Linked DNA regions of Homo sapiens. The protein of the gene in region 1 purifies or fractionates together with the protein of each later gene. This does not show direct contact. Each region holds a gene or a part of one and is shown in the gene's direction. Other genes may lie near its edges.

Region 1 (3,500 bases):
CTCCACCAGTAATGAGCAGGTGAGTGTGTCTCCGGAAGGAAGTGCCTATTCATTATTACTTTTAAATGCAGAAATCTTAGTGCACACTCCTCACTGTAATGAACAGATTTTGACGTTCTCCTTCCCTTTTTTACATTTGTAAAGTGCTCTGCAAAACTAAACCAAAAGCAGTTCAAATGAATACATAGATGTAACAATCAATGACCTTGACCCTGCCAGTACCAAGAGAGTTAAGTACAAGTGCTCCTCTCTGAAGGTGCGCTGGCTCTTTCAAGCCTACAGTTACCAGAACAGTAAATTAAGTCAGTGGTAACTGAGTGGATGGAAGGATGCAAAAGGTAGAAATGTATTCACTTCTCACCTGTGGGTCCACTATGAGTGTTTTCAGCAGAGAAGTATTTTCTAGTGTCTGGAATAATATATTACTTTTATAATGCCCACAGCTAAAGGTCACTCAAGAACCAAGAGCAAAGAAAGGACGACGTAATCAAAGTGTGGAGCCCAAAAAGGAAGTAAGTTGCCCACCTCGCAGTATCCAGGTGGCAAATGAAACAGGAAATATTTTCAAAGTATTTTGTATTTTCAAAGTATTTCAAAGACAGTCACTCTTGGTGGATACTTGTGAAATTCAGCTGCTGTCAGTCAAATCATATCCATCAAGTTGAAACCAGTCTTCTGACTTCCCTGTCATTATCTGTTACCCTGGAATAGCGTACATGCTCCAAGTCTCCATCTTAATTAAGCAGCCGCTGACCAAAGCTTGGCTAAGTAGGAAGGGCACATTGCTATTAATACATTTCCTGGGAGCTCTGATATTTTTCCTAAGTATGATTAAAAACAACACATTTATCCAGTATATCAGTTGTGCCAACATTTAAAAACTTGAAGGAGACTGTGGTTGAGCTCAGCCGTTTTAAGTGATATAAGCCCTGCATGTTTTAAAACTGTAAATCTGGGCACATTTCAAACACATATTCAGTGAGAAGTGGTTTAGGATTTGAGGAAATGTGTTAATGAATCTAGTCCAATGAAGTAATTATAAGTTGACAATAATTTTTATATTCTATAAATTTCTGTGTTTAGTTTATTTTAAAAACAAAACTTATAGTATTGATAAGTAAAATTATAAATGAAGCTTATGTTTATAATTATTGTAGCTGTTAATTGCATGTTCTTTTCATTCACTAATTGGGGGAGATTTGTTTATTTTTAAATTGTGGCAAAATATACGTGACATCTACCACCCTAACTACATTTTTCAACAGCAGTTTATTCTATGGCTATTATGTATATCACTGAATTTTTATCCGAATGGGGTAGTTCTTGAACTGGTGAATTATGTGGCTTCGTTTGGCGTCTAAACTCTTGTCTCACCTTTTAGGAACCAGAGCCTGAAACAGAAGCAGTAAGTTCTAGCCAGGAAATACCCACGATGCCTCAGCCCATCGAAAAAGTCTCCGTGTCAACTCAGACAAAGAAGTTAAGTGCCTCTTCACCAAGAATGCTGCATCGGAGCACCCAGACCACAAACGACGGCGTGTGTCAGAGCATGTGCCATGACAAATACACCAAGATCTTCAATGACTTCAAAGACCGGATGAAGTCGGACCACAAGCGGGAGACAGAGCGTGTTGTCCGAGAAGCTCTGGAGAAGGTAATGCTTGTCGCCACTGTGGGTGCCCTGCTGCAGCCGGCACTCCTGTCATGGTTAGGCTCCTTTCACTCATGCATCAACCCAGTAGCAGCTTTTACATGTAGCCATATAATGACACCAGTATCTTTTACAGCATTTCAAGTAATAATGATACTTTCCTCACCTAAATTTTTTACACATGTAATGAAGGGGAAAAAAGGTACCTCATGCAAGTTGTGTTAAGTTTCTGTTCCAGTGTAGATGGTCTGTGTTAAGTTGTGTGCTGACGCACTGTGGGTTGTCTTTTCATTCCAGCTGCGTTCTGAAATGGAAGAAGAAAAGAGACAAGCTGTAAATAAAGCTGTAGCCAACATGCAGGGTGAGATGGACAGAAAATGTAAGCAAGTAAAGGAAAAGTGTAAGGAAGAATTTGTAGAAGAAATCAAGAAGCTGGCAACACAGCACAAGCAACTGATTTCTCAGACCAAGAAGAAGCAGTGGGTAAATACCAGTCTTTTTTAGACCCTTATTTCTGAAAATGTACCACAGGTATGATGCCCGTTAATTCAGAAGGTAGCTGTGGCACATGCAGAAGATGTTTCTGAAATAAGATCAAATGTGAAATGGTCAGCTTTAGTTTTAAAAATTTTATTAAAAGTCCTATGATCTCTCAACCCCAGATCCCATATTACTGTGTACTGCTCAGGATTATTTTGTTAAATTGAGATTATAATACCTTAGTACATATTTATTACAATTAACTTATATAATTTCTCCATCTATGCATATATTTTATTTGGGCAAAGTGGCTGGCCCTGACTTTTACCTGGTGATTTCAGATGGGTAACATCCAAATGGTGAAATTATAAATGTAATTATCACAATAAATAGTTTCAGATTTCCCTGCACTTAACATTTATACATTAGATTTTGTTAAAGAAATCAGTTACTTTTACTTTATAGTAGTGACATCTCATTGGTCTCTAACTACCCTCCCTCATACCTGACTAGTATCATTTGTCATCGTGTCCTGCTCGCCAGTCTCATCCTCCCCACTAGAGTGGGAGCTTCTGAGTGCACAGGGTCCAAGTGCTCGTCCTACAGCCGCCACAGTGCTCAGTGAATTAGGGAAAAGTTTTGCTCCCGAAAGCTCATAACTTGGTTTCAGTTTTAATAAATGACTATATAAAGTTTTGTGATAAACTAATTCTTCATTTTATCAAGCCTATATTATATAAATACACATAAGCTTTTCATGAAAGAAATATTTTTAAATCTGTGACAAAGATTTGGCAAGAAGGAAAATGGAAACTTCGAATAGATGAAGATAACTTGGTAGGAAGAGCTGGTGAATAACAAAATAAATATTGTTAACAAAAGACCAGGAGATCTGTGGAGGGAAAAAGAGAACTTTATTTTCTGTTAAAAAAACAACCTGCACATTGGGTGTTATAGCCTTCAGTACAAGTGAAAGCGTGCTTTCCGAATAACTTTTCCATGTTCTTCTTTAAGAAATTTCACTGCTGCTCGTAAGGTTTTGAGGAGCTGACAAGCTCTGACTGGTGAGGGATGGCAGTCGGCAAAACTAGTCTGAGAGCTGCAGCCAACATTTTGTGTTCCAGGTGCTTCTCCCCCCAGCTTCTCAACTCAGTTTTAGTTGGGTATGACAAGAATGACTGAATTTGTGTGATCAACTCTCACAATATCATTAGATGGGAATTAAGGTGTGCTGAAGATAACAGAAGCACAACACCCAAAGACGCCAGGTGCAGTGGCTCATGCCCGTAGTCCCAGTGCTTTGGGAGGCCAAGGTGGAAGGATTGGTTGAGCCCAGGAGTGCAAGGTTGCAGAGAGGTGTCATTGCACC
Region 2 (3,500 bases), on another chromosome or scaffold:
TTTTTTTTTTTGAGACAGAGTCTTGCTCTGTCACCAAGGCTAGAGTGGAGTAGCGTGATCTTGGCTCACGGCAACCTCCCTTGCCTGGGTTCAAGCGATTCCTCTGCCTCATCCTCCCAAGTAGCTGCGACTACAGGCACACGCCACCTCACTGGGCTAATTTTTTGTATTTTTAGTAGAGATGGGGTTTCACCATGTTGGGCAGGCTGGTCTCGAACTCCTGACCTCCAGTGATCCGCCTGCCTTGGCCTCCCAAAGTTCTGGGATTACAGGTGTAAGCCACTGCAACTGGCCTTATTTATCAGTTTTCACATAGAACTGCAGATAAAGCTGTAAAACAAGGTCTATTTTTCAAAATTCCAGAAAGCAAAGGCCTGGTATCAATTGTCTACTTATCTAGGATTTTATATTTCTTTCCACATAAAAATGCCAAGTCTGGATTTCAGCTTTTGAATGGAAGTGAGTTGGTTTCTATTCATTGTATTCGAGGATCCCATACATTTTTTTCTCTAAAACATTCTAAAAGTTAGGACTTAATCTGTGGTTATATCTGGGTTATAATTAATTTATCAAATATGCTACTCTTTTGTCATGACTATTCTGTATTTAAAAGTTACTGCTTAATTTATTTTAATGGCTCTTCCTTAAAATGTCTTAATTGTATTACCTAAGGGCAAATTATACATAATTAAATAAAAAGCATTTTGTCATCTATGAGAAATTGTTTGCCTTTACATTGCCGCCAAGCAGAGAGAAACCATTTCATTATTTAAGGCGACTCAATTTTTTTTTTTGAAGATAGAGTTTTGCTCTTGTTGCTCAACTGGAGTGCAGTGGCGCAATCTCAGCTCACTGCGACCTCCCGGGTTCAAGCGATTGTCCTGCCTCAGCCTCCCAAGTAGCTGGGATTACAGGCATCTGCCACCACACCTGGCTAATTTTTTTATTTTTAGTAGAGATGGGGTTTTACCGTATTGGCCAGGCTGGTCTTGAACTGCTGACCTCAGGTGATCCACCCCGCCTTGGCCTCCCAGAGTGCTGGCATTACAGGTGTGAGCCACCACGCCCAGCCAGGCAACTCAGTTTCTAATCAGCTATAAGAAATTCCATTTATATAGGACTCTCTTCAGTTTGGTTTGTTGGTAAGTATATTGACCTGTGAAATGGAAATTTGCTTACTAGGAAAACCGTCTTCAGATACAGTCCCTAAGCCCAAGAGAGCCCCAAAACAGAAGAAAGTAGTAGAGGCTGTAAACTCTGACTCGGATTCAGAATTTGGCATTCCAAAGAAGACTACAACACCAAAAGGTGAGGATTATCTTCTTATAACCCTTTAAACATATGCTGTGTGGAAAAGATTGAATTTTTTCTACCTCATTGAATTTAGAGAGGCTAGGTATCTATTTTGTTTTAAATTGCTTTACTCCTCAGTAAGCAGTGTGTCTAGGAATCAGTGCTGAATATAGTCCAAAGGAGGCATAGCAATTTAGTTCAGTCACTTTGTTTTACAAATTAAAAAATTGAGGCTCAAAGAGGTTAAATAAGAATCCCTAAGAATGGTCCAAATTCTCCCCTGCAGCCAACTCACTGAAAGTTGTTATTAAAAAGTCAGATCAGTACTCCACACTAACTGTGACACTTATAGTAATGGGCTAGATCCAGGACTCTTAGGCTAGAACTTTTTTTCTCACCTAAGAAATAACTGTATTCAGGGCCACACAAGGAACAGCACCAGTTCTCCATGGCATCCCCTCTTTAACTCCAGAATCTGGAAAGCCCTTGAAGATGTTTTGTAAAATATGTTTGTAAGACATGATATGAGGGTAGCTCATGCTGTGAGGGTAGCTGCTCTACCTTTTATTCAACTGAAGGATATCTTCCTCAGTGTGTTTCTTATATTTCTTTAAGGAGTGGTTGGGATAAGGAGCTGTAGACCTACAGGGAAATGGGGATAATAGGGTGGAAAAGAATCACAGTGACTGGGAAAGTAGTACTCAAGATATGCAGGATTGAAAGCCTTTATAAATTCAAAAATGCTATTTCCCTGATTCATTTGATCAAATATGACATCCCAAGATTATTTAAGTCTATCTTCGTACTTGTCCAGTCTAGCTGTCAAGGGATTTTAAAGATATAAAATTGCTATTTAGTTGTTTTATTTCATTGGCATCATTGTGGGATGGAGAACATCTGGCCCCTACTTAAATATTACCTTTTCTCCTTCCACCTCCAATGATGAGAATAAGAGGTTAGGTAGGTGAAAAAAAATGCTGCATGTGCTGAGTCTAGGTCTGAGAAGGAATATGTATTTGACATTTTATAGTTAATACTGGTGGTTCTCATATGGTGCCACTTAATGTGGGATATGCAATTGGTTGTTACTAGTCTTTGATAAGTAAAACGGAGTAAACATTTAGACCTTTATAATAATGTGTTACTAAAACAGCATGTGATTACATTTTTTAGTAATTTGTGTTCTATGGTATTTTTAAAAGTATTGGCCCATGACAAATTAGAAATGAAAAAAAATATTTAAATCCCATGTAATTTAAGAAGTACTCTTCCAAGATATTTCCTTTTCAGGCTCAAGGACCAAATAGCAAATACAAATGTTTTATGTATGAAGGGATTCATCATTAAAATTTGTCTTTGGGACTTTCCCACTAGTTTAAATGTATTTGTCAAAAAGTCTTTGGTCATGTCAACCCCAGAATTGAAATGCTACTGCCAAATTGTTTATAATCACTCATAGTAAGAGATCAGGACTGCAATGCTCCACTGATTGGGCATGCCAAAGAAATAAACTACAATGTTGTGGCATTTATCTTTTTATATTGCACTTAACCACGGAAGAAAAAACCTTTTGTATCATTTTAAGGTAAAGGCCGAGGGGCAAAGAAAAGGAAAGCATCTGGCTCTGAAAATGAAGGCGATTATAACCCTGGCAGGAAAACATCCAAAACAACAAGCAAGGTAACCGGGAACATCATTGCATATTAGTGCATGGCTTTTTAAAAAAAGATCTGTAAGTGACTTAGTTTGCTTATGACTATAGTCCTGGAACAGCTTTCCACCTAGCATCTCGTATCAATATGGGGCTTGTATTTGGTTAAGAAATTATTCAAGTATAAATTTATATAATCAGGACTATTTCCTAAATAACTGTGCTATAAATTAACCTACTTAGAACCTTCCATTTCATCCACTGAACTGTAGTAGTGTTATGCTACCTAAATATTAGACTCTTTCAGACTAAAATATTATTTTTCAGACTAAAGACTGTTTCCTTTTAACTTGGATTTATTTGACCAGGGCTAATTTGATTTTTTTTTTAATTGAATTCATTTGACTGTGGCTGATTTTTCCAATTAGTCTGACCCTTTTCCAGAAGTACACTATTTCTTTTAGGTAAATGAATGACATCAGCTCCCCCGCATCCCTTTTTATGTTGATTTCCACATTGACCTCTTCCATTCAGTCATCTTCTATGTCTCAGGTCC
Region 3 (3,500 bases), on another chromosome or scaffold:
GTCAGGAGTTCGAGACCAGCCTGACCAATATGGTGAGACCCGCCCCCCCGTCTCTACTAAAAATACAAAAATTAGCCAGGTGTGGTGGTGCACGCCTGTAGTCTCAGCTACTGGGGAGGCTGACATGGGAGGAATCCTGGAACCCAGAAGGTGGAGGTTGCAGTGAGCCAAGTTTATGCCATTGCATTCTAGCCTGGGTGACAGAGCACGAACCTATCTCAAAAAAAAAAAAAAAAAATTGTTGTGCCTTTGTGAATCGTAGTATCATCGGACCTACAGTGAGGTTTTTATTTCCATCATGCCAAAGCTTGCAGGACAAACTATTTAAAATAATTTTTTAGTTGGGTTTTTCCCTCTTTAATCTACTACCACCCCAGTCCAGAAAAATACATTTGTGCTTTGTAGAGCCTTGTACTTCTACAACACCTTTAAAAACAACAAACAAAAACCTCTTAAACCTATGGTAATTTCTTGTTTGTCCCTTAAAGTTGACCAATTTGAATAAGGAGATTCACCTTAGGCATCTTCCTATTACCCAAAACATGAATATTTTCAGATTATGAAAACACATAGAAGGGGACCTCTTAGAAAACCTTTATTTATTTATTTATTTAGAGATGGAATTTCGCTCTTGTTGCCCAGGCTGGAGTGCAATAGCACGATCTCAGCTCAACGCAACCTCCGCCTCCTGGGTTCAAGCAATTCTCCCGCCTCAGCCTTCCTGAGTAGCTGGGATTACAGGCATGCGCCAACACACCTGGCTAATTTTGTATTTTTAGTTGAGACAGGGTTTTTCCATGTTGGTCAGGCTGATCTCGAACTCCTGACCTCAGGTGATACGTCCACCTCGGCCTCCCAAAGTGCTGGGATTACAGGCATAAGCCACTGCGCCCGGCCAGAAAACCTTTAAAATGTTGTAATGTTATCCTTGTATACTTGTTGACTTGCTTTTCAAGGAACTTTGATGTTTAGAGAGTCATTCTACTTTGTATAATTCTAAAGTAATGTTTTAATGTAGTGACTGTTCTCAGTGTCTTTTTATTTTATTTATTTATTTTTTTTGAGACAGAGTCTCACTCTTTTGCCCATGCTAGAATGCAATGGCACAGTCTCGGCTCACTGCATCCTCCACTTCGCAGGTTCAAGCAATTCTCATGCCTCAGCCTTTCCAGTAGCTGGGATTACAGGCATGCGCCACCATGCCCAGCTAATTTTTGTTTTAGTAGAGACAGGGTCTCGCCATGTTGGCCAGGCTGGTCTCGAACTCCTGACCTCAGGTGATCCACCCGCCTTGGCCTCCTAAAGTTCTGGGATTACAGGCATGAGCCACCGCACCCAGCCTCTCAGTGTCTTTTTATATCTTTTATATAATTCACCCCTTTTTCATATTGAGGAGGAATTTTTGTGTTCTGAAAGTTTCCCGTGTAACATGAAATGATACTGACAGGCCATAAAGAATGAGCTTCTGAAGTATGAAAGGTCCTGGACAAAGCAGTGGCCCTGGGTCTGGGCCTGTATAGAGAGTGTTGCACATCACTGACCGTGGGTATCTCTCCTTCAGTTTGTCACTGTGCAGACCATTTCTGGAACTGGAGCCTTAAGGATCGGAGCCAGTTTTCTGGTGAGTCTGGAAGCTTCTTCAGGAAAGAATTATAAATTCCAGATGACAGGGCTTCCTGTTGTGTGTGTATTTGACTGTTGATGCAGAAGTAGATTTCTTCTTTCCGTGAAGTTTGCAGATGTCCTATTCTCATGAAAAAATGAAAGGACTTTGAAGAAATTACAGGAAAGATATATTAGTGATGATGATAAATTCAGTTCACTAGGAACTTACTATTTACTAGGGAGCTTTTGCATTTTAACTTGTTTAATCCCTATGAGAGAGGTACAATTAACCCCCTTTACAAGTGAAGAAAGCAAGACCCAGAAAGGTCCTTGGCTACATGGCCAGTATAACTGTCAGAGACTATTCCAACCCAGGCAGTCTTACTGCTGAGTCAATACTGCTTCTCAACCATAGAGAGAAACTGGGTTTCAGCAGAGAAAAATGTTCTCTCAATAAAACACATCAACATTTTTTTGCCTCTCCTTTGTTCATTTTTCTGTTTCCTTTCGTCCCATCTTTTAGCAAAGATTTTTTAAGTTCAGCCGAGATGTCTTTCTGCCCAAACCAACCTGGGGAAACCACACACCCATCTTCAGGGATGCTGGCATGCAGCTACAAGGTTATCGGTATTATGACCCCAAGACTTGCGGTTTTGACTTCACAGGCGCTGTGGAGGATATTTCAGTAAGTGTGGCTTTCAGGGTGAGAGAGGTGAATAAAACTCCTTGCTTGCGGACATTTGATGTCTCCCACCATGTCCCAATATCTGAGTTAAAATACTGGGGAAGAGCTGATTCCCAGGGTTCTGGTTACCTTTGTTACTTATCAAATGATGACGATCCTGTGGCATTTCAGATAAACCATTTCCTTTAAAGCTGCAAAGTCGTCTCTTGGCTGTTTTTCTCTTTAGAAAATACCAGAGCAGAGTGTTCTTCTTCTGCATGCCTGCGCCCACAATCCCACGGGAGTGGACCCGCGTCCGGAACAGTGGAAGGAAATAGCAACAGTGGTGAAGGTGAGGACGATGAACTCACTGGCGACAGTTCTGTGTTTAGTAACCAGCTTTGGAGGCTTAATTTGGCAATGTCTCAACAGAGAGTCTTAACCTCGAACCTGCGTGAAATGTCCACACAGGTGGATAAGCTGCCAGAAAAGGGCTCCCCATTTGCGTGATTAGCAGTTCTGGGATTGATGACGCATGAGTATTTGAAAGTAATTTTTTTTGGCTGGGCGCGGTGGCTCACGCCTGTAATCCCAGCACTTTGGGAGGTCGAGGCAGGTGGATCACCTGAGGTCAGTTCGAGACCAGCCTGGCCAACATGGTGAAACCCCGTCTCTACTAAAACTACAAAATTAGCTGGGCGTAGTGGCCCATGCCTGTAATCCTAGCTACTTGGGAGGCTGAGGCAGGAGAATCACTTGAACCCAGGAGGTGGAGATTGTGGTGAGCCGAGATTGTGCCACTGCACTCCAGCCTGGGCAACAAGAGCAAAACTCTGTCTCTAAAAAAGAAAAAAAGAAAATAATTTTTTTCCTCATCCTGGATGTAGGGAACTCTGATAAAACCTGTCCACTGGCCCCAGGATGTCTGCTGTTGATGCCTATATTCGCCCTGGTCAGTGGTTGCTTATTGATCTTTTTAAACACTTTTTCATGTCCTCTCCTTTGCAGCATTGCCATGATCACTCTCAAAGTGTAGCCAGCTGTCAGAGAAGACACTAGTCAAAATTCCTAGGGAGGAAAATGTTATTCCTGTTGTCTCATGTCCCTGTTTTCCCTTTTCACTCCTTTTCATTTCCCTTTCTTTTCTCTCTCTCTCTTTTTTTTTCTTTTGAGACAGAGTCTCACTCTGTCGCCTTAAGCCAGAACGCAGTGGCACAGTCACAGCTCACAG
Region 4 (3,500 bases), on another chromosome or scaffold:
AGTGTTTTCTCTGGGGCTTCCTTTTGTCCAGTTCCTTCAGTCGCCTGCCCTGGGCTGTGCTGTGGGCCTCTGTGGTGGGGATACTGGCAGCTGCACTGCACATTGCTTCGTGCCTGCGAGTGTGTGACAGCAGACACCTGCGGGGTCGGGAGCACCCAGGCCCACTGGGTCTTTGAGAGGCGGGCGCCCTTCAGCAGGTCTCTTCATGTCCAATGCAGGAGACCAGAGGGTCTGCAGCAACAGCAGAGCAGGCTTAAATCCCTCATGGCAGAGCGGCCTGAGGTGCCGCGGCCTGGAGCTCACCCTGAAGCCACTCGTTTCTTTACCTGTCCTGTGGGTCTTTCCGTAGCTGGTTACCCCAAGGATCATAGGCTGGCTCCTCAGTGGCCCTGCTCCCATCCATTCTGAAGGCCCTTGGCTTAGATGTTCCTCCTGTTCAGGCTTTGCCAGCCCTCTGCGGTCCTCCCCCCCGCGACCCGCAGCAGTCCTGTCCATAGCACGGGGCGCCCCGAGCGCTTAGCGGCACAATGCTAAAGCAAAGGTGACATGTCTGTTGCGCGCAGGTCCTGCTACCTACCCGGGATGACTTTGCTATTAAACAGCAGTCATAGTTTCAGGCAGTGACCTCTTGCCAAAAATCCCACACGCCCTTTTGAGAGGCTTCTGAGCAGCGCACGCCGGTCGCCATCTTCGTGGGACAGTCTCGGGACTGGCATCAGGGGTAGGGGTTACAGTTCAGATGCTTCTCCAACCTTTTTTCAGCGTCCGTCCCTGGCCTCATGCTGGGATGATGGCCGCGTGGCTCTCCGAGGAGCTCCTCTGCTGGCCCCGGGGGACGGACGGGAGGACCAATTGGTCTCTTCCCAAATTTTTTTCTAGGATTGCTTCCCACGCAGCCCTGGGAAAGCCCTAGATTGACGGTTTTTGTGAGTGGAAGATAGAGGTCGGGCCAGCAAGGACTGTCAGACCTGCTGAGGCCCTAGTTCAGACGGGGCCGCCAGGACGCTCGTCACAGTCCACCTAGAGGTGGGATAGAGGGCGGCGGAGCAGCTGCTTCACTTCCTGAGGCCTTCAGCTGCCGCCTCTTCATCCGGGGAGAATTGGCTTCTCCTGTGATATTGGGAGAAGACCCCATCGCAGGGCATGAGATTGGACAAGCAGAATGGGGAGGACAGAGGGAGCAGGGGGCTGTGGTGCACATGGGGTGGGCAGGCTGTGTCCCTAGCCCATCCTGGCCGCCTCAGGCCATGTGGGGAGTTTGGTGACTACTCCGGGCTCTCACTCCAGGCCCGTGTCCACCAGGAGTCTCTGACAGTGCCTTGGGGCATCCTGGACCCTGCCGCGTGGTGCAGGCAGTGGCAGGGCACAGGGTGCGGTGGCCAAGCTGCAGCCCCCCGACCAGGCCCTGGAGCTCAGCTCCTTTGCAGGCCACTCAGAGCGTCTCGAAGGGACTTGTCTGTTACAGGAGAGAAGGAGGACGAGGACGAGGATGTGAAGAAGAGAAGGGAAAAGCAAAGGAGAAGAGACAGGACGCGGGACCGTGCAGCCGACAGGTGAGGCGCGGGCACACGACCCCACAGGAGGAGGTGGACTCGTGCGGTGGAGGCGCTGCCGAGCTCACCTGTCCTCGCTCCACAATGCTGGGGGCCTGGTGGCCTGACTCCTCTGGCCAAACCAGTGGGAGGCAAAACAGTAAACAATTGGGAGTGCAGAAAAGACCATCACTCGTGCTCCCAGCACACGAGCTACCTGTCTTCTAGGATGGCTGGGACGTTGCTTTGGTGGTTAGGTTTCTGTTCTTGCTTTAGAGGATTGGTGTTTGACTCCTGTGTCTCTATTCCTCTGGAATCCCAGCCTTGCTGGTGGGTCTGTGTGGTCCATAACTGCTCAGCAGCGGGCTCTGTTACTCTCCTGCAGGCCTGAGGGGCATCCCTGCCCCCTAGCCTGGTGTCTGGCATCTCAGACACTGTCCTGTGTTCACCTTATCCAAATCCAGACCACCCCTGGAGTTTGACACAGCTAGGAGACAGGTAGAGAGATGATCCTACCATCAAGATTTTGTCCCACAATAGAAAAGGATTGCAAAAATGTTGAGCCCAAAGGATGTCATTGTGAGCACACCATGTGCCTGCCTCTCCCTGCCAGGAGTTAAGTGGCTTCTGACTAGAAACTGAAATCACCAGTGATCATGTGATGCTGGGGAATCCTTGACCTTAAGGTTCACATGGGACAGTGATTTTCTTTTTGTTTGTTTGTTTCTGAGATGGAGTCTTGCTCTGTCGCCCAGGCTGGAGTGCAATAGCATAATCTCGGCTCACTATAACCTCTGCCTCCTAGGTTCAAGCGGTTCTCCTGCCTCAGCCTCCCGAGTAGCTGGGATTACAGGCGCCTGACACCACGCCTGGCTAATTTTTGTATTTTTAGTAGAGGTCGGGATTCACCGTGTTGGCAAGGCTGGTCTTAAACTCCTGATCTTGTGATCTGCCCGCCTTGGCCTCCCAAAGTGCTGGTATTACAAGCGTGAGCCACTGCGCCCAGTCTGGGCAGTGATTGTCGTGTTCAAAGAAATGCTTAGTAAAAGGGGCCAGATGCCGTGGCTCACACATGTAATTCCAGCACTTTGGAAGGCTGAGCTGGCGGATCGCTTGAGGCCGGGAGTTCAAGACCAGCCTGGTCAATATGGTGAAACCCATCTCTACTAAAATTACAAAAATTAGCCAGGCATGGTGGCAGGTGCCTGTAATCTCAGCTACTCGGGAGGCTGAGGCAGGAGAATCACTTAAACTGGGGAGGTGGACTTTGTAGTGAGCCAAGGTTGCACCACTGCACTCCAGCCTGGGCGACAGAGCAAGACTCTGTCTCAAAAAGAAAAAGAAACGGGCTGGGGGCAGTGGCTCACGCCTGTAATCCCACCACTTTGGGAGGCCAAGGCAGGCGGATCACCTGAGGTTGGGAGTTCGAGACCAGCCTGACCAACATGGAGAAACCCAGTCTCTACTAAAAATACAAAATTCGTCCGGCATGGTGGCGCATGCCTGTATTCCCCGCTGCTCGGGAGGCTGAGGCAGGAGAATTGCTTGAACCCAGGAGGTGGAGGTTGCAGTGAGCCAAGATCACACCACTGCATTCCAGCCTGGGCAACAAGAGCGAAACTCTATCTCAAATAAAAACTCCATCTCAGTGAGCCGAGATTGTGCTACTGCACTCCAGCGTGGGCGACGGAGCAAGACTCCATCTCAGGAACAAAAAAAAAAAAAGAAAATCACTGTTCCATGTGAACCTTAAATCAAGGATTCAAAAAAAAAAGAGAGAAATGCTTAGCAAAACGAAGCCAGGAACCAAACGCAGAACTGTTTCTTCTTAAGTGGTACAGGAACATTGAAACCCTTGTTATTTTAAACAGATAAATGGATAGAGTAGATGACTTTTCATGTCACATGGAAACTGAGATGACATTTTCTTTTTAATTATTTTTAAACTTAAATAATCTAATAAAGAGA
Region 5 (3,500 bases), on another chromosome or scaffold:
CGTGCCAACAGTTTTGCTCACTGTTGCTTTTTTACTATTTGTGCAGCTGTCAGCACAGTGAAAAGACAAACTATGTCTTTACTAACATTATGAAAATAGTTTTGACTGTGTGGACCCTGAAAAGTTCTCAGGGTCCTCCAGAGGCCCAAAGTTCACAGTTTGAAAACCACTGACTTAGTAGTTTCTGCAGTTCATGCAGAAAAGGACTTTATCTATTTCAATATTATAACAATGCCTTCTCTCCAGTATTTTCATGTTTTTCATTTTATTTTTTACATTTAAAATTACCTGGAATTTTATTTTCACATAAGGCATCAAATTGGCTCAATTTTTTTGAATGACTAACCAGATATTATAATACCATTTTTTATAATCCATTTTTTCTCCAAGTTGAAATGCCATGTTTATCACAATATGCATGACCTAACTTTGCCCCTGTTCTTGTTTTTCTTTTGCTCTACTCATTATATTTTTAGTTTTATGTACTTTATGTATTTGTCACAAATCTTTACTAAAACAAGGTGGGATATAAATGGATCAATAAGTGTAATACTGGAATGATATGGTATGTTACCTGTTTTAAACAAGATACTTATTTGATATGTGTTGGCAAGTTTTAATTTATAACTGTTGTTCCTTACCATCATCATAATAAAACAAATATTTCTAGGTTGGTGATGACAAAACTGTGAAGCAGTGGAAAATGGATGGGCCAGGCTATGGAGACGAGGAAGAGCCATTACATACAATATTAGGAAAGGTACAAAAGTAAATTGACTAATAGCTTGCCTATTAACATTCTTTTATTTAAAATTATTTTATAGTTATAATTTCCTAAGATGGGGAAGAAGATGCAGATAAGAAACGAAAGACTTTAGGCTGTAATTGTTGACCCATTTACGCAATATTTAATGCAGCTAAAGTCCTTTGATGCTAAAGAATTTTAACAGTTTTTTTTTTTTTTGGTATTCATTGTAGTAGAGTTTGATTTCTGTTTTTAGCCAGAGGATACAATGAAACATTTCCCATGGGAAGACCACGGAGAAAAAGATAGAAGTTCAGAAAATGCTTCAGCTTGTCTAGTTGATGTCATCATAGATCTTACACAAAACTCAGAATTTCTTAGTTGAAAGACTCCTTTAAGAAATGAAGAAATTTAATAGTATTATGCATCATGTATAAATCTTATTAATGTTTCTACCAAATTATTCTGCAAATCAGGTGATGGGTGGTTTAGTTTTAGCATAAGAATAATTTAGAACATTTGGTCTATCCATGTTTTATAATGTTTACATTTTTATATTAAGCAAACAATTCCAAAATTAGATTTAATCTTTAAATTAAATCTACCTTTTAAAAATCACTTTGTCGTTTCAATATTATGGTTAGTATATAATATTTAGGTTCTGCTTTAGGTTTCAAGAAGACTAAATGTTCTTAAAGGGATAGGGGAATGGGGTATGAGTATGAGGTAGAGATAATTTGTAGTTGGAAACACGTTAGTAATTTCTAAAACAAAATTGGTTTCATTCTTAAAATGTCTTGTCTCATTATGGTATTGTTTCCCCCTTTAAGTAAGGACTTCAAAGAAGTTTCTTTGTGAACAGGGCTTTTCTCTAAAAAGATAGTATAGATAAATATATTTAAAATATTATTCTGCAGATTTGAATTAGTAATGAAAAAAATCCTCTTAACCTTTTTGCTTTTAAAGACAGTGTATACTGGGATTGATCATCACTGGAAAGAAGCTGTTTTTGCCACATGTGGACAGCAAGTAGACATTTGGGATGAACAAAGAACTAATCCTATATGTTCAATGACCTGGGGATTTGACAGTATAAGTAGTGTTAAATTTAACCCAATTGAGGTAATGTTTTTTTTTAAGTATGTTTTACTTATTATGGCTTAATAATTTCAGTTCTGTTTAGAAAACTTTTGAATGTATGATAGAAACTTCTGAATTTTAATGGTGTTTTGGCATTTTGTCAGTTTTCCCGATTGTAAATGAGTTCTGATACCTTTGCTCAAATCCCAACATGTTTCCCAGCAGTTTAGTCCCAGATACTAGAGTTAAGCATTGTTAGAGGAGTGGTGTGTGCATTTGCCCATTGGGGTAAAATCCAAGTAAATATAGTCTTGTTTTAACTTTAGTTTTACTCATGCCTTCAACTTCATGTTCCATAGATTATGTCATTGTACATTTAGGAAAATGTTAATTTTTCTACCTGCCTTGGAGGTCAGAAGAAGGAGCATTGGACATCATTTTGTCTATTTGTAATTGGTAAGGTACCAATGCTTCATAAAAACATTTGTGATTATTGTTGAACTGCATGGTAATTAGTTATAGTTATATTTTTCTTTGCTCAGAAGTCTGAATTGTGATTCCCAGTTCCTCCAGGCCTAAGGGAAGAGTTGGAGATTGGCCACTACATGTCGTCTGTTTAGGTCTGAATTTAGGAATGGAGGCTGTCCTGAAGGCTAAGCTAGCCCTTGGACTCCAGATCTTTCTCTGAACTTTTTCTTAATGCATAACAATAGATGAACTGATTGTCCAGAAGACTCAGTAGGGATATGTTTTTCCTGTTGAAAGAAAAGGCAATCATAGCATATATAAGCCAATTTTAGCAGTTATTGCGAGGCTACCATTTTAGGTAGTATGAGAGAAAAATCCTAATATGCAAGTGTTATGCTCTTAAAGACCCAACCTGATAAAAGATAGGAAGTAAGGTTGAGTCAAAATAGTAAGGTATAAAAATAGTTTGTATGATATACTGGAAAATGAGATGCTGCAGTGCGATGTGAGCTTGGCCTTGAGGAATTACTGAGAAGTCAGAGGACACTCTTCCTGCAACTACCACATGCTCACACACACACTTTCTAGAGACGCTACAGGTCTAGAATAGGTTGGCAAACTAGTCTGTGAGCCACATGTGGCCCACTGCCTGTTTTTGTAAATAGAGCTCTGCTAGAAGACAGCCATGTTCTCTTGCGTACATATTGTCTGTAGCTGCTTTCGTGCTATGATGGCAGAGTTAAGTAATTGCCACAGAGACCATATGGCCCACAAAACCTAAAATACTTACTCTCTGGCCCTTTACAGAAAAAGTTTTCTGATTCCTGGTCTGGAGTGTCTGTCTCTATTATATCTTTCTCACTCCATCCTCCATCTTCCTTCCTTATGTTTCCCTTGGTTGTAGAAGAGAGAAGTGGCATGGAAAGGCAGCTACCTTTGCAGAGCAGGACCAAGTGTAAAAGTTGATAACATATGTGAACATTTTTTAAAAGTGCTATCCAAATTCAAGATGGTGACGGTATTACGTACTAAAAAAAAAACACAAAAAAACCTAAACAGACACTGGTTCTTACTATTTAGAGGAACAAAAAAATCTTTTGCTTCTCTGCTTTGGTGAACATCTGTGTCAGAAGAGCCGATCACCAATTCTAAAATCGTAATTATTAGGGATGACCTAGTGACCATGTTTTTCAAACTTGCCTGTATA
Region 6 (3,500 bases), on another chromosome or scaffold:
ATACTAAGTAAGAGAATTGGCCACCTTCTCTTTGGCTTTTAACTGGCTTCTGAAAAGTAGCTGATTATAGGGCCAGTAAGCTCCTTTTACCAGTATTAAAGTAATTCATTTGCTGTTATACTTTGAGAAAAGTATTTTTATGAATTTTTTATAAAATTCTCAGAAAATTCTCATTATAGAAGTAATGAAGCTTATAAGTAATTCAGACAGAAATAGCATAACTTGGAAGTTTTCCATAATCCGTGGGGGAATATATCTATATTCCATAGATATAATTGCTATTACTAGTTTAGTGTCTGGTTATTTTTCAAAACCCCAACTGTACCAGTGTTCTTTTTTTTACATCATTCTAAAATGAGCATAAGATAAAATATTTGAATCTTGGATATATCACTTTAAACAAAAATTAGTGGCTAAGTCTACCCAAAGTAGAGTCCTAGTGCACTGGTAGCAGTTTTTGTGCCTTCTTGCAATACGTTTCACCTGGCTTGGGAAGAAATGCCGATGATTAAGCTTCCAGTTATTTTGGACAGAATTTTTTGTTTGAGTCTTTTAAAGTTCTTTTCAGGGAACCAAATCAATTTGGAAATAAAGAGGGGAAAAATCAAGTAAGCTCTGTAAAGTTACTTTGTTTCTGCAGTCAGGTTTTTCAGAGTCCCATATTTTGAAAATTTTCTTTGGGGAGGGGTTGTTAAGATATATTGAACTATTACTACTGTTGCAAAGAATTGATGTGTTGTGCTCATAGAGGAAATTAGTGAGGTAAATGGTCAGTCAATTTTCAGGCATCACACTTTTCTAATTCCCTTTTAGGAGAAAAGTAATGCTGGTGCTTCCTAGTACAAGATTAGTGGAAACAGCTATTTCTTATACTGGAGTTTTGCAAACAGCATGTTTAAATTGTGCTTACTCAGCCATTTAGCAGTCAATATTTTACAGATTGTTTAAGATTCCCTTTCAGCCAGTTTTTATCTCACACTTAAGGTAGGGTTTCTTTTTTTCAGGTTCTCAGGAATTCTTCCGCCAAAGGTGAATTCTGCAGGTACACATAATTGCAACAGAACTTAACACAAATTTTGCCGCAGAATTCGAGAGGCCCCTGCTTCTAAGTTTATGTAGCTAAATGAATTCTTAGTTTTGCACATCTTTTTTAAAAATGCAACCTAAAGGTTTCTCAACATTGTGTTATTAAATGGAAAATACCTTGCCCCCAAATTTTATATGCAAACTCCAAAACACCAATACCATTCCTAAGGCAGAAGGACTAGTTAGTTATTTTATTATAGCATTCAACCTGACAAGTTTTATAACTGGAGAGAGAACACAGACAGAAGTATTTATCAGATTAAGTTGTTTATATTAATCTCAGAACTAGCTGTTTCCTGGCCTAGGTTATGGTTTTTTCCCCCATTCTTTTGGACTCATTTATGTGCTTAGCTACATAAACTCAAAAGTCGGATTAAAATAGCTGTATTTTTGTGTAAACTGTTCATACCTGTAAGGCCGTTCTTTATAAGTGTGCAATTAGTGAATATGAATACTTTATTCCACAGAAGAAGACGTTCGTCAGCATCCTTGTCTGGGAGTAGCTCATCATCCTCTTCATCTCGTTCACGGTCACCACCAAAGAAGCCTCCCAAGAGGACATCCAGCCCCCCTCGGAAAACTCGTAGGTTATCTCCTTCAGCAAGTCCTCCAAGGCGAAGGCACAGGCCATCACCTCCTGCAACTCCACCACCCAAAACTCGGCATTCCCCTACACCCCAGCAGTCAAACCGTACAAGAAAAAGTCGTGTTTCTGTGTCTCCAGGGAGAACTTCAGGTAAAGGTAAAAATCAAACACATATGAAACATGGTCTCTCTTTCTTTGGCTACAAAGCGTAGTCAGTTATTGCCCCCTGCTCACTCTCAAAGTATGAAATAGCTAGATAATATTTGTATCTAATACTCTCTGTAGGTTTACTTATAAGCCTACCTCTTTCCTGCTTTAAAATCTTGGGGCTTTTTTATGTGTAAAAGGGTTTTGTTTTTAGCAATGCCCTGTGGCATTGCGCAGGTGGAGAAATCTTTTACCAGCCGTGGGCTGTTTGAGTTGGGGTAACATATCAAAGTTTGCGTTGGCATGATAAGGGATCATTTTATTACTATGAGACCAGTTAACTTTTTTTTCTCCTGAAGATTTTTGGTTTGATATCTTAAATAAGAGGACTTCATATTCTCTTTTAGTTCTTTCTTGGTCGCATTGCGCTCCCAAGCAAAGGACATGGTGTCCTCTTAAAAGCTGATTTGTTTTTTTAATTTAGGTTCTAGGCAGGGTTCTTCTGAGTGTTGTCCTTGCTTTATTCTGCAGATTGATTTCTGAGGAATTTATGATCTGTGAACCTGCCAGGCAAGTAGAATGCTGTGTTAGTCTGAGTGAAGGTTGTGGTCTATTGGGGTTTGTTCTGTGAGCATTAAATACGCATGGAAAAAACTGTAGTGTCCATTTGAACCAGGCTCTCTGGAGCTTAGGGCTGGAATGATATACAGCCTAAAAGGTGAGTAGTAAGGGATGGGGAGGATCTTAAAAGCTGCTAAAGCAATTGAGTTTTAAGGAGCAATCTGTAGGTTAACACACGCTGGGGTTATTATGATCATATTGAAAATTTCAGGTTAGAGCCAGGTGTGGTGGCATGAGCCTGTGGTCCCAGCTACTCAGAAGGCTAAGGCAGGAAGATCACTTGATCCCAGAAGTTCAAGGCTGGCCTCAGCCCCATAGCGAGATCCTGACTCTTAAAAAAAGAGAGAGAAAAAATTTCAGGTTAGAAACAAAGAAATGGGGATGGGCAAAATTTTCATTATACATTTTAATGAGCTTGATGAGACCAGCATTGCTAATTATTCACCCTGTTGCCTTATCTCCCCACTCCCCAAGGCTGCAATGTGGTGATACCTAGAAAGGCAAATTTTGCTTTCCTTTTTTGTATCTGTGACAATGAGGCATAGATAAGCTGACAGAGTGAAAGGGTGACCAGCAGATTATGATAGTCTGTAAAAAGTAATGTTTTCTGAATTGTGACATTTTTATTGTAGTGATAGGTTCATTAAATAAGACATGGCCACTTTTGTTGGCCCCTTAGAGAAGCAGCTAGTGAAAGTAGAGAAGCCTGTAACTGTTCCAGGTTCAGTCCTCAGTTTGAGAGAGGGGCTTCGGGATCACTGTTTTCATAACCTCATGTACCATACTGCTTTTCAGCATTGGGAAAATTTCAGTCCATTTTCAGTTACCATGTCCAAATCTGATGCCCATGGCCCTGGCCTATTTTGTCTTTTCCTGTAAAGTTTGTACTTCTGAATATTTATTCTTTGTCTGGAGCCACAAAGCTCTCCAGGGAAAAAAACAAGTGTTTTTACCTGTTACTTTGCAAAAACACATCAAGTGATGATTTTTTTCTATTTATATCATATAGCCTAAGAGTTGCAAAAGTACCTGAACAGAGGGACCAATCCTTGTTAAAATA
Region 7 (3,500 bases), on another chromosome or scaffold:
ATTCTTTAAGGTGACTTTAAAAAAATCTATGAAGTAGACTTTTGTTACAATATTGTTAGTATCATAAAACCTAATACCAGGGATAGCTTACAAGTTTATTGGTCCTATCCTTTAGTATCTTACGTCTTTAAATATCACTATATGATAAGACTAGCTTTTCAAGTTCTAAGTGGGAGGAAGTATCAGTTTCAACTTCTGAGTGTTACGACTTTTTGGTTTTTCAAATGAACATATTTCTATAAAGAAAAATGGTCCTTGCATTCAAGCATCTGCACATCAGAATCAGCATTCTGATTTATTTAATATAAATCATCCAGAGTCTGGATTATTTTAAGATGGCTTATTATAGTGAAACACTACTTTTGCACTGATTTAGTGCTAGGTTTTGTTTTTATTCCCAATATCTGACTAACAGTTTCTGACCAAATAGCCCCATTTCTAATAACCTAAAATTTGAATTCAGAAAAGTTTAACTTTGATGGATTGCTCCTTTTCTTCCTTATTTCACCACCATTGAACTTTGAGCTTCAACTTGTTTTCTGCCAGATGAGGATAATGCTAATAAGTTCTTTAGTCTTAAGTTTGGGATATTCTGGGATAAGCAAAGTTTAAACATCTTTGTGTTTGTTTATAGTAAGATTTCTCTGTATATTTAAAGTAAAATGTCACTTTGTAAGACAGTGGATAGTAAGCAGTATTTTCATGTTTGACCACTGAAAATTTTTTTTCACTAGACATCACTGTTTGTGATACCCAAGTTTGGGAAATGTACTAAACTTAAATACATGAAGATACTTTGAAGATAAAACACTGTATAAATATATAATTAGAGAAAAGATCCAGTTGCTGAAAGCTTATTTCTTCTTAAGTGGGAACAATTTATAGAGTTAATAAAGAATAATTTTATAGTGATTGTAACAAGACAGTGCCATGTTAATTTAACTAGTACAGTACCGTAATTTAAAACTGTGTTACTTCTTAACATGTTCCATGTTAAGATGCACAAAAAATGATAATGTATTCTTCTATCTCTATATACTATTTCTAAGTCTTGTGTGGTGTATTCTATACAGTAGTATTTTAAAATTATTTTACTGTAGTTGTGTGTGTAGTAGTATCACTTACTATAAGAAAAAAATAATTTTGCTCTATAAGAAAGGGGGCTGCTACCCAGCAGCCGTCCGTGCAGATGGACTTCTGTTTCTTTCAGGGTTAACTGCTACTTCTATGTTATACTTTAAATCTTTTCTGGAGGCTGTATGTCCAGTTTGCCAGAGAGAGATGAGGTAGAACTCATCGTAGACTTCCATGGCTGGTTTTCCAAAATTGGGAAAGGTGCCATGTGATTGATTGACTACCATAATTCTAGTGATACTTTGAAGGGAAAGATTATACACACCTGTTAAAGTTCTTGTTGTTTTTGACCCTCACATATGTGCACTATTAATCTTTTTAAGTTTTGGATATAAGTAGCACAGTAGTTCTCAGACATACACACTAAGTAGCAGTATTGCATATGTTCATTTTTATTGCTTTAATTCCTAAGTGAAGGAAGAATTTTTGAAGAATACACAGTAGTTTGGCTTTAAAGATTGGAGTAAAAACATTATTTACAAATATCTTGCCTTTAATCTTCATAGCATGAATTGTATATGAAAATCAGTTGTTTTTTTTTTAAATCAGGGGTGTATTAGTGGTTTTATATATTATCCTATTAAAACATACCTTGTTTTAAAATTGAAATCATGAAACTTGTGGATGGAAAGTGCGTGTACCATGTTTGTTTATAATTTAGGAGCTCCAGAGGAGATGTAATACCTTAATTACTTTGATTGAAAGAGAAAACATGGAACTAGAAGAAAAGGAGAAGGCAGAGAAAAAGAAACGAGGACCAAAGCCTTCAGTAAGTATTCATGAATATGTAAATATGTGGATTATGTAAATTTCCCCTTTCTAAGTATTTAACACTGCTTGGCTGTCATTGATGTGTTAGTCCCTGTTGTGCACCCCTCCATTGCCTTTACTTTTTTTTTTTTTTTTTTTTCCTTAAGGGAGAACCCAAGCTCATAATTTGAGATTCTTCCACTTTCAAATTTAGGTAGTGGTATAATTTTTAATTTTTAGTTGTTATGAGTAAGTATGTATTTATAGGTTACATGAGATACTTTGATACAGGCATGCAATAAGTAATAAGGACATCAGGGTAAATGGGGTATTTATCACCTCCAGCATTTATCCCTGTTACAAACAGTTTAACTCTTAGTTATTTTAAAATGTATAATTAAATTATTTATTGCGGTAGTCACTGTGTTGGGCTATCAAATACTGGGTCTTAGTCTCTCTTTGTATTTATTTGTATCCATTAGCCAGCCCCACTTTCCCCCACCCCCACTGCCTTTCTCAGCCTCTGGTATCCATCCTTCTCTCTGTCTCCATGAGTTTAATTGTAGTTTTTAGCTCCCACAAATAAGTGAGAACATGCCAAGTTTGTCTTTCTGTGTCTGGCTTATTTCACTTAATAAACTCCAGTTCCATCCATGTTGCTGCAAATTACAGGGTCTCATTGCTTATGGTTGAATAGTATTCTATTGTGTATACATACCATGTTTTCTTTATCCATTTATCTGTTGATGGACACTTAGGTTGCTTCCAAATCATGGCTACTGTGAATAGTGCTGCAGTAAACATGGGAGTGCACATATCTCTTTGATATACTGACTTTCTTTTGGGTGTAAACCTAGGAGTAGGGTAACTCTTATCTGTAGTTTTTTGAGGAACCTTCAAACTGCTTCCACAGTGATTGTACTAATTTGCGTTCCCACCAAAAGTGTATGAGGGTTTCCTTTTCTCCACATTCTTGTCAGGATTTGTTATTGCCTGACTTTTGGATAAAAGCCATTTTATCTGGGATGAGATGTTATCTCATTGTAGTTTTGATTGCATTTCTCTGATGATCAGTGATACTGAACAGCTTTTAATATGCTTGTTTGCCATTTGTATGTCTTCCTTTGAGAATCATCTGTTCAGATCTTTTGCCTATTTTTAAATCGGACTGTTAGGATTTTTTTCAGTAGAGTTGTTTGAGCTCTTACATATTCTGGTTATTTATTAATCCTTTGACAAATGGGTAGTTTGCAAATATTTTCTTCCATTCTGTGGGATGTCTCTTCACTTTGCTGTTTCCTCTGCTGTGCAGAAGCTTTTTAACTTAATGTGATCCCATTTGTCCATTTTTGCTTTGGTTGCCTGTGGGGTATTATTCAAGAAATCTTTGCCCAGTCCAGTGTTCTGGAGAGTTTTCCCAATGTTTTCTTGTAGTTTCACAGTTTGAGGACTTAAAGTCTTTAATACATTTTGATTTGATTTTTTTATATAGTTAGGGATACAGGTCAAGTTTCATTCTTCTGTGTATGGATATCCAATTTTCCCATTACCATTTATTGAAGAGACTGTCCTTTCTCCAGTGTATGTTCTTGGTAGCTTTGTCAAAAATGAGTTCC

The links.
Region 2: the proteins of ZMYND11 (region 1) and TOP2B purify together in Homo sapiens (affinity purification with mass spectrometry, with the first as the bait; one large-scale study listed by BioGRID). This does not show direct contact.
Region 3: the proteins of ZMYND11 (region 1) and GOT2 purify together in Homo sapiens (affinity purification with mass spectrometry; one large-scale study listed by BioGRID and IntAct). This does not show direct contact.
Region 4: the proteins of ZMYND11 (region 1) and AKAP8 purify together in Homo sapiens (affinity purification with mass spectrometry, with the first as the bait; one large-scale study listed by BioGRID). This does not show direct contact.
Region 5: the proteins of ZMYND11 (region 1) and DCAF13 purify together in Homo sapiens (affinity purification with mass spectrometry; one large-scale study listed by BioGRID and IntAct). This does not show direct contact.
Region 6: the proteins of ZMYND11 (region 1) and SRRM1 purify together in Homo sapiens (affinity purification with mass spectrometry, with the first as the bait; one large-scale study listed by BioGRID). This does not show direct contact.
Region 7: the proteins of ZMYND11 (region 1) and SMARCA5 purify together in Homo sapiens (affinity purification with mass spectrometry, with the first as the bait; one large-scale study listed by BioGRID). This does not show direct contact.

What each region holds. Positions count from the first base shown.
Region 1 is NC_000010.11:246,955-250,454, forward strand, and holds part of ZMYND11 (zinc finger MYND domain-containing protein 11), read left to right. Parts: coding exon 1-19; intron 20-443; coding exon 444-512; intron 513-1,381; coding exon 1,382-1,654; intron 1,655-1,857; exon of another isoform or gene 1,858-1,948; coding exon 1,949-2,134; coding exon of another isoform or gene 2,135-2,155; exon of another isoform or gene 2,156-2,836; intron 2,837-3,500. UniProt on the Homo sapiens protein: Chromatin reader that specifically recognizes and binds histone H3.3 trimethylated at 'Lys-36' (H3.3K36me3) and regulates RNA polymerase II elongation. Does not bind other histone H3 subtypes (H3.1 or H3.2).
Region 2 is NC_000003.12:25,598,908-25,602,407, reverse strand, and holds part of TOP2B (DNA topoisomerase 2-beta), read left to right. Parts: intron 1-1,182; coding exon 1,183-1,308; intron 1,309-2,878; coding exon 2,879-2,973; intron 2,974-3,500. UniProt on the Homo sapiens protein: Key decatenating enzyme that alters DNA topology by binding to two double-stranded DNA molecules, generating a double-stranded break in one of the strands, passing the intact strand through the broken strand, and religating the broken strand.
Region 3 is NC_000016.10:58,717,317-58,720,816, reverse strand, and holds part of GOT2 (aspartate aminotransferase, mitochondrial isoform 1 precursor), read left to right. Parts: intron 1-1,561; coding exon 1,562-1,621; intron 1,622-2,128; coding exon 2,129-2,290; intron 2,291-2,516; coding exon 2,517-2,621; intron 2,622-3,500. UniProt on the Homo sapiens protein: Catalyzes the irreversible transamination of the L-tryptophan metabolite L-kynurenine to form kynurenic acid (KA). As a member of the malate-aspartate shuttle, it has a key role in the intracellular NAD(H) redox balance.
Region 4 is NC_000019.10:15,366,288-15,369,787, reverse strand, and holds part of AKAP8 (A-kinase anchor protein 8), read left to right. Parts: intron 1-1,465; coding exon 1,466-1,553; intron 1,554-3,500. UniProt on the Homo sapiens protein: Anchoring protein that mediates the subcellular compartmentation of cAMP-dependent protein kinase (PKA type II).
Region 5 is NC_000008.11:103,425,386-103,428,885, forward strand, and holds part of DCAF13 (DDB1- and CUL4-associated factor 13), read left to right. Parts: intron 1-670; coding exon 671-760; intron 761-1,711; coding exon 1,712-1,867; intron 1,868-3,500. UniProt on the Homo sapiens protein: Part of the small subunit (SSU) processome, first precursor of the small eukaryotic ribosomal subunit.
Region 6 is NC_000001.11:24,653,302-24,656,801, forward strand, and holds part of SRRM1 (serine/arginine repetitive matrix protein 1), read left to right. Parts: intron 1-1,004; coding exon of another isoform or gene 1,005-1,042; intron 1,043-1,553; coding exon 1,554-1,828; intron 1,829-2,350; coding exon of another isoform or gene 2,351-2,362; exon of another isoform or gene 2,363-2,389; intron 2,390-3,500. UniProt on the Homo sapiens protein: Part of pre- and post-splicing multiprotein mRNP complexes. As a component of the minor spliceosome, involved in the splicing of U12-type introns in pre-mRNAs. Involved in numerous pre-mRNA processing events.
Region 7 is NC_000004.12:143,548,202-143,551,701, forward strand, and holds part of SMARCA5 (SWI/SNF-related matrix-associated actin-dependent regulator of chromatin subfamily A member 5), read left to right. Parts: intron 1-1,795; coding exon 1,796-1,903; intron 1,904-3,500. UniProt on the Homo sapiens protein: ATPase that possesses intrinsic ATP-dependent nucleosome-remodeling activity.